Linked DNA regions of Homo sapiens. The protein of the gene in region 2 purifies or fractionates together with the protein of the main gene of each other region. This does not show direct contact. Each region holds a gene or a part of one and is shown on either strand. Other genes may lie near its edges. The genes, in order: SETX and ANKRD10.

Region 1 (3,822 bases), on a different chromosome or scaffold from region 2:
ACAGCTGCATTGGAAGGTGCACACACGAGGACACGGTTTTGTTTGATTTTGGCATTGGAGTTTTCGTCTGAATGCCCCTTCCTCTGGTTCTACAATTTGCCACATATACATACCAAACAAACACACAAAAAATATGGGTGAGCTCTATTACATAGCTTTAAAGTTTGTCTTTACTTCCATGTATTTTTGAAAGTTCTCGTAATAAAGTTAAAAATAAATAAAAGCATCTACATCTAACACTGATATTTAAAATTACTCCAGCAAAAAAATTTGTCATAACTGCTCTGAGCCTTACTTTATCATCCACTTACTTTAATGAATACTCAATCCAAGCCAGGCACAGTGGCTCACGCCTGTAATCCCAGCACTTCGGGAGGCCGAGGCGGGCGGATCACTTGAGGTCAGGAGCTCGAGACCAGCCTGGCCAACATGGCGAAACCCCATCTCTACTAAAAATACAAAAATTAGCTGTGGGTGGTGGTGTACGCCTGTAATCCCAGCCACTAGGGAGGTACTCGGGAGGCTGAGGCAGGAGAATCACTTGACCTGGGAGGCAGAGGTTGCTGTGAGTCAAGATCGTGCCACTGTACCCTAACCTGGATGACAGCGAGACACTGTCTCAAAAAAAAAAAACAAAAAACCACAATCCAACCAAAATGCAGCCCAGCATTCACAGCATTCTACGTGACCTACCGTGAAGCCTGAAGACCATCATTCTAGTCCTTACGATTTGTTTCACATAAGATAGTGGTTTTTTCCTCTTTTTATTTCCCATAACCTTCCCTCCCTCTGCCACCCTTTTCTCTGACACAGTTACACACAATATAAAAAATATATACAAATCAAAGAGGAAATGGCATGTTAATACTTATTTACATGTCAGTTAACTCAAGTAAAGTAAAATGATACAGCTAGTTAACAGCATCAGTGCCCTCACCCATACCTACCTCTGTCAGTAGACGATAGAGGAGGCCAACAATAGTTTTTGATTTTCCTGTTCCAGGTGGTCCATGAATCAAGCAGATTTTGGCAACTGATGGTGAGTGTTTCACCATAGCATATGCAGTTTCTATTGCTTTCTTTTGATCTTCATTGAAATCTCTTAAGTACGCAATCTATATAAAAAACACATTTTTGAGAATGAGTTGCTGTTTCTGTAGTGGAATTTGAAAGGAAGAACATGAAAAAGACCTGTCCAAATTTCTTTCAATGCATGAGACAAAAGCTTTGGTTATGGTCAGACAAGACAAGGACACCAAAGTGACCTTTAATCTAAAAAGCACGTTCACTACTGGAAAGAAAGCTAATTACTTACTAATTACTAATTAGTGTCTGTAACGCTTCAAGTACTTACAAATACAACTGTACTTTTATTTTTTATTCTTACAAAGATAATCACAATAAATTGCATTTACTAATCCACAACTTTTCTTCTATTTACTACTCTGTTTTTTTCCTTCTTTAGTCAATTTTCTCCTTAGTGAAAACATCCCAAGACTATTTATTTCCTAGCACATGTGATACAGTGGAAAAAGCATGTATGCCAGGGGAAGATCTGGGTGTAAGCTTCACTTGCACTTACAAGCTAGGCCACTACGCTCCTAACCCAAGCCTTGGCCTCTGTTACTCATTAAATCTAGGATTCCTTAAGAGGTGAGAACAGACTGAGATAATGCACATGAAAGCCATAGCATACAGCTCTAGAGTTTCTAAATAGTTAGTTTCCTTTTGCATTTCTCTGTTAACTTCCTAGAGTTTATACACAGCTTCACATGTTCAGTTGACAACTTCATCTTTGCATTTCCAACAATACCGGCCAATTCTCCATCAATCATTCAAATGTAAATTTAACACCACTAAACCTGAGACTTCTCACCTAATGCACATTAAGTAGGCTGCTGACCTAACATTTTAATGTTGCTCTTCCAGCAACCTTCGACGCTTATTGTACTGTACCTTTTCCTGAAGTGAGCTGACTTAACCTAAATTACATACTTTGCAATACTAAAGAAAACTAACACTAAACTGTTCACCGTGAACACATTTTTGTTGTAAACATATAGGAATACATAGCAGCTAAAAAATATGATGCTTTAACATCTTAACATGAAATTATCTAGTATCATACATCATCACTCACAATTCTCTCAGATGTTGTAGTCAGTAAATCTTTTGTACAGAAGTCCATAGGGTTTGGATTCAGAACAGCTCTAGCCAGTTGGTTCCGACTACCCAACAGAGACATGGCTTTCAACTTCCTTTGTGTAGTTACCAGAGAACTGATTACAATACAATTCACAAGTTCGTTTAAATTGGCCGGAAAGTTCTCTTGAGTCTGGATGGAAAGGTAACACTCAGTTTTCCCATTACGCACTATCATCAAGAAAGAGAAAAAGCAACTTCAGTTATCACTGAATAATGCTGCCTAGTTGTAAAGGTCATGCAGAATTAGGTATTTTTAACATATTTTTGGATATTATTTACATAATTTACCCAGTAAATATTTATGGACTGCTTCCTGAACCCAGTAATGTTCTGTCCTCCGGAGGCTTATTTTCTAGAAGATGGAGGCAGATAACCAAATAAATATGTCAGGTGGTAGTAAGTGCTCTGAAGAAAGCACACAAAGGGAGGAAGTGATGGGGATGGAGGCAGATAAGCTGGTCCGAGAAGGTCTTCCTGATGAAATATTTGAGCAGAGACTTGAAGTAAGGGAGTAAACAGTACTCAGCAGAGGGTAAATAGTACTACATGCAGAAAATAAGCAACTGCAAAGATCGTAAGACAGAGATGTGCCAGGAATATTTTAGAAATAGGGAGAAGGCTAACATGGATAGAAGGAAAAATAGGGAGAAGAACGCTTAGCGACTCAGAGTAAAACGGGGCTACATTTTATAGGGCTGTGCAGATCACAGTAATGACTCTGAACGCTATTCAGGATCAGGGTAGAAAACCATTGGGCACTCTGTGTAGGGAAATAACATGCTCTATCTCACAAACTAAAAGAACCACTCTTACCTCAGAACAAAGAATAACTACAATGAGAAAAGTACAGAAACAAAAAGACCACTTACAAGGTTACCATAGTAATTTAGGTAAAAGTTAATGACAGCTTGGACCAGGAGGCACTAGTAGACGTGGGAACTGGATTTGGGATATATTGCAAAGGAAAAATCAATCATATCTGCTGACAAATTAGAAGTGAGGTGTGAGAGAAAGTAAGGATCATGGATAACTCCAAGGTTTTTGGCCTGAGTAACTGAAAGAAGTGAGGCCCCAATTAACAAGATGGGAAAGAATGAAGGAAGTGCAGATGTCAGGCAGAAAATCAAGTGTTAACTTTTGGACTAGTGGATTTGAAATGTCTAACACATTTCCAAATGGAGGTATCCAAGACATGATTTTGATCTATGAGGAGTTCAGGGAATGAGACTGCCTTAGAACTATAAATTTGGCAAAGGTAATCATTTTCAAGAGCCAAAAGCACAGAGTAAGCCATCAATCCTCACTGCAACTCTTCTAAATGTATCCTATATTCTACAGAATTAAGCCCTGATCACACAAATAAACATGGTACACCTGTTATAATGCAGTACAATGTTGACACACTTTATTGCTATATTAATATATCATGCAAAAAGGAGAAGGAATAATGAAATAATGTTCTTCTCTTCACATAACTAAGACTAAAAAAGTTGCAATTGCCAAAAAGGCAGTTTGGCATAAGAAAAACAATGTGGACTTTGCAGTCAACAAAAGCAGGCTTCAATTCTGGACTTACCAATTAACACTGATGACAGCCTTGAAAATAGGTTTACTTAA
Region 2 (3,822 bases):
AAAGTATAATTAATGTAATACAATCTGCCCAAACTTTGGTGCTTCCTTTTCATTTAATTCATATATCAAAATAAAAATATTATGCAATACTAGAAAATACTCATGGCCATTCATAGCCATGCAGTCTTAATAAGGCTAATAAAAATAGTGACTTTAGTCTGTAATAGTCCTGCACATAGCCGCCTTATATTTTTAAGAATTTTGTTGGTTTCTGAGATTCTCAATTCTCTTTTATCTCTGATCAGATAGGATTTGGGTCTTTTTTCAAAAGGTGTAATGCATTTATCTTATGCTTTAAAAAGTAGAGACGCTTAGCTAGTGTCCATGCACACTTCTCATTTCCAAGGTCAGAGCTCTATGATGTCTGCAAATAACGAATACAAGGCTATTGTCAGTCCTTATAAATAAGAAAATATTATTTGTCCCTAATTCTGTAGTTTTCACTCTCAAATGCGGGGTTTTTTTTTTTTTTTTTTTTTTTTGCATTAACAGTAACCCCAAGAAAGGCATCAGGGTTCTGGAGTGGTTGTTTGAGTGACACAGCACAAGGCCTTGATTTCATCATGCTTTTGCTGTGGATGTAGTGTAGCTTGCTGAACAGGTATGGAAGCTGTCTTTGCTGTTAAGTACTTCTCCCGTTTGTTTATCAACCTGCAGCTAACAGGATGTCTGCTTTTTTACAGGTTTATTTCACAGAGCAGTGTACATTCTTGTCTTCCAGGGGAACTTCAACATGGAGTTACTTTTGATCCCTCAGTTTTAATTCAGTGTCTAAAGGTTTACAAGTTCAACTTACTCTATTTTATTCAGCTCTTTCACTTACTCTGCCATCACTTCCTACTTGAATCTGAGTTTTAGCTACTGTAGAGGTCTCAGACCTTTCCTTTTTAGTACTATTAGCCAGGTAAAACTTTGGTTCTTGTGAGTGGTAGGGATGAGTTTTTAGGACAGTATTCAAAGCCTTTTTAAAGGAACCAACTACTCAAATGCTCTACAATGCCAAAAATACAATACTCCTGCAGGTTTTCCCAAGCAAGGCCAAAACAATCAAAATCTGACAGAAAAACACAGCTGTTCAGCTCTGGAATCTGATGATAGGCTACTTTTTAATGTCAGGACATCCTTCTAAACTTCCACTTACAGTGTCACATGTAAGCATGAAGGCTGGCTCGTTGGTGAGCCATTGCTTTGTTTTTAGGAAGACAGTTATGAATGCCATGGACAATCTCAGTACATGTTGTTTGTTATGATTTTATTCACGCTAAAGGAATGGGTATTAAAATTAAGTGCATATAATATAGAATTCAGTTTCAAGTCTGAAGTTAGCGTAAATTTAGATTCTTCAGACTAACATAAAACATGATTTTGAGAAGTTAAATAGGAAGATGCCTTTTTTAGAAGTTTAGCATATTTAGTTTATCTCCCAAATCTTGCTTAGAAATCAAATGTATATAAGAGAAGTTAGTTACAGAGCTAGATTGATTAACTACTTCTTTAATGAAGATTTGCTATGAATTTGTTTACTCTTTCATACCACCTTCAGATAGCTAGTCAGTTCAGCAGGAGCAGAGACCAGGTTAGCACGCGGATGGGGTGTAATTCAGTGTTTTTGTGTTGTACAGCCTGAGAAATGCCAGTGGCCTGACAGCAGCAGACATTGCACAAACCCAGGGTTTCCAAGAGTGTGCCCAGTTTCTCTTGAACCTCCAGAATTGTCATCTGAACCATTTCTATAACAATGGCATCTTAAATGGGGGTCATCAGAATGTATTTCCTAATCATATTAGTGTGGGAACAAATCGAAAGAGATGCTTGGAAGACTCAGAAGACTTTGGAGTAAAGAAAGCTAGAACTGAAGGTGAGACCGCTTTGCGGGTGGGAAGAGCACACTTATTTTTCCTTTCTGTAATATGTTTTCTTTTTATGGCTGAGCGCACCTTCGAGATGAGACCTTCACTTCAGGTGGTAATGCGCCTGGTGGATTGTGCGGTGACGGTGGAGATTTCTCCTGTACTGCCACTGCGAAGATGGGACTTAACAAAAGGGAATGTGAGGGAAATACTGATGGCCCAAGTGTAAATGTCTATGTGGAACTTTTTGAGCACCCATGTTTACCTGCCATGAATTAGATTTTTTAATTTGTTGTATCTGTTTGAAATATATCTATTAAAGAAAATCTGCCACTGTGCCTGAATTTTTTTTTTTTTTTAATTTGCTTCTTGTAAATGTTCCTGGGCTTATAAAAATTGCTGATGGTCTGGCAGTAAAACATTTTCACATTCGGGAAGGTGAATGTTTTCTGTACTATTTCTGTACTATGATTTGACCTCAGTGGTCTCTGTACCTCACATGTGTGTTGACTTATCACAGCAAGATCTGGTGTATAATTTGATCTTGAGGATTTAAGTCCCTAAGGTAAGTTATTTTCGTTGTAAGTATTCTCCCACCATTTTTTTTTTTTTTTTTTTTGCTCTGTCACCCAGGCTGGAGTGCAATGCTGTGATCTCGGCTCACTGCAACCTCCGGCTCCCAAGTTAAAGCAATTCTCCTGTCTCAGCCTCCCAAGTAGCTGGGATTACAGGTGCATGCTATCACACTGGGCTAATTTGTATTTTTAGTAGAGAAGGGGCTTCACCATGTTGGCCAGGCTGGTCTTGAACTCCTGGCCTCCAGTAAGCCACCTGCCTCGGCCTCCCAAAGTGCTGGGATTACAGGCATGAGCCACTGTGCCTAGCCGTTTTTTGGGTTTTTTGTTTTTTGTTTTTAAGGTAGGTTTGAGTTTGCAAATAAGCAGTCAGCCAGTCACTCTTGAAGTTGAAAACATCTCCCTTTCCTATAGGAAAATCATCTATATCTATATATAAGATGTCTTAGGCCAGTTGTCATGGCTCATACCTGTAATCCCAGCACTTTGGGAGGCTGAGGCAGGAGGATTACTTGAGCTCAGGAGTTCGAGACCAGCCTGGGCAACATAGTGAGACCTTGTCTCTATTTAAAAAAAAAAAAAAAAAAAAGTCTTAATAAGAAGGTAAATGTGATAGCTTGGCAGGCATATTTAGTGAACTTAGGGGGAGAGGTGGGAGTGTGAAGTAATGAAGCAGATTATGAGCTCAGATTTGCTGAGTATAAGCACAAAGTTTTGCCCGTTGGTTTAAAAAAATCAACCGTGCAAGTTACAGCATAAGGAAAACTGAGTGACTATCAGTTAATCACTTAAAAATCTAGAGATTTTGGTTAAATTTCATGAACCAACATCATCTTTTCTACCTTATTTAATGAGTGTGTCCAAGTGAAACATTTTTTCCCTATAAAGTTGATAAAATGTCAGTATTATGTACTTCACAACTATATCTTGTCACCATAAAAATTCCTGTGATAAGACTTTTTATAGTAATGTATGAACTTAACAGTTTTATCAAATTCAAGATTTTTATGAGTTAAGCATTTCTGGAAAGATGCTAAAATCATAAGCATGACATGAAGATCTGCATAAAATTCAAAATGGTCTTTTTTAATGGTGATGTATTCAGCATTGTCATTTATTTGTACCATGTTTTAATATATTTTTTCTAATGTAGTTTCAACGCCTTTTTAAGAGCATCCACTTTTTAAAAAAATCCTTTGTCATTTCCTTTAATTAAAGCCTGGTTAGTATTGTAGAGTGGCCTCATGCCCTCATGCACGAATTGTACATGTCTGTCCCTGTATGTCACTGTATAGTCTAAATGTCCTTGAAAAATGATTTATGCTTCATTTTCTCTTATTGCTGATAAATCTTAAATTCTGTTTAGTATTTTTAAAAAGAGATCACTTAACATGCTA

What was found.
Region 1: the proteins of ANKRD10 (region 2) and SETX purify together in Homo sapiens (affinity purification with mass spectrometry; one large-scale study listed by BioGRID and IntAct). This does not show direct contact.

What each region holds. Positions count from the first base shown.
Region 1 is NC_000009.12:132,295,940-132,299,761, forward strand, and holds part of SETX (probable helicase senataxin), read right to left. Parts: intron 2,374-3,822; coding exon 2,141-2,373; intron 1,116-2,140; coding exon 948-1,115; intron 90-947; coding exon 1-89. UniProt on the Homo sapiens protein: Probable RNA/DNA helicase involved in diverse aspects of RNA metabolism and genomic integrity.
Region 2 is NC_000013.11:110,891,064-110,894,885, reverse strand, and holds part of ANKRD10 (ankyrin repeat domain-containing protein 10), read left to right. Parts: intron 1-492; coding exon of another isoform or gene 493-538; exon of another isoform or gene 539-683; coding exon of another isoform or gene 684-777; exon of another isoform or gene 778-1,622; coding exon 1,623-1,858; exon of another isoform or gene 1,859-2,194; intron 2,195-3,822.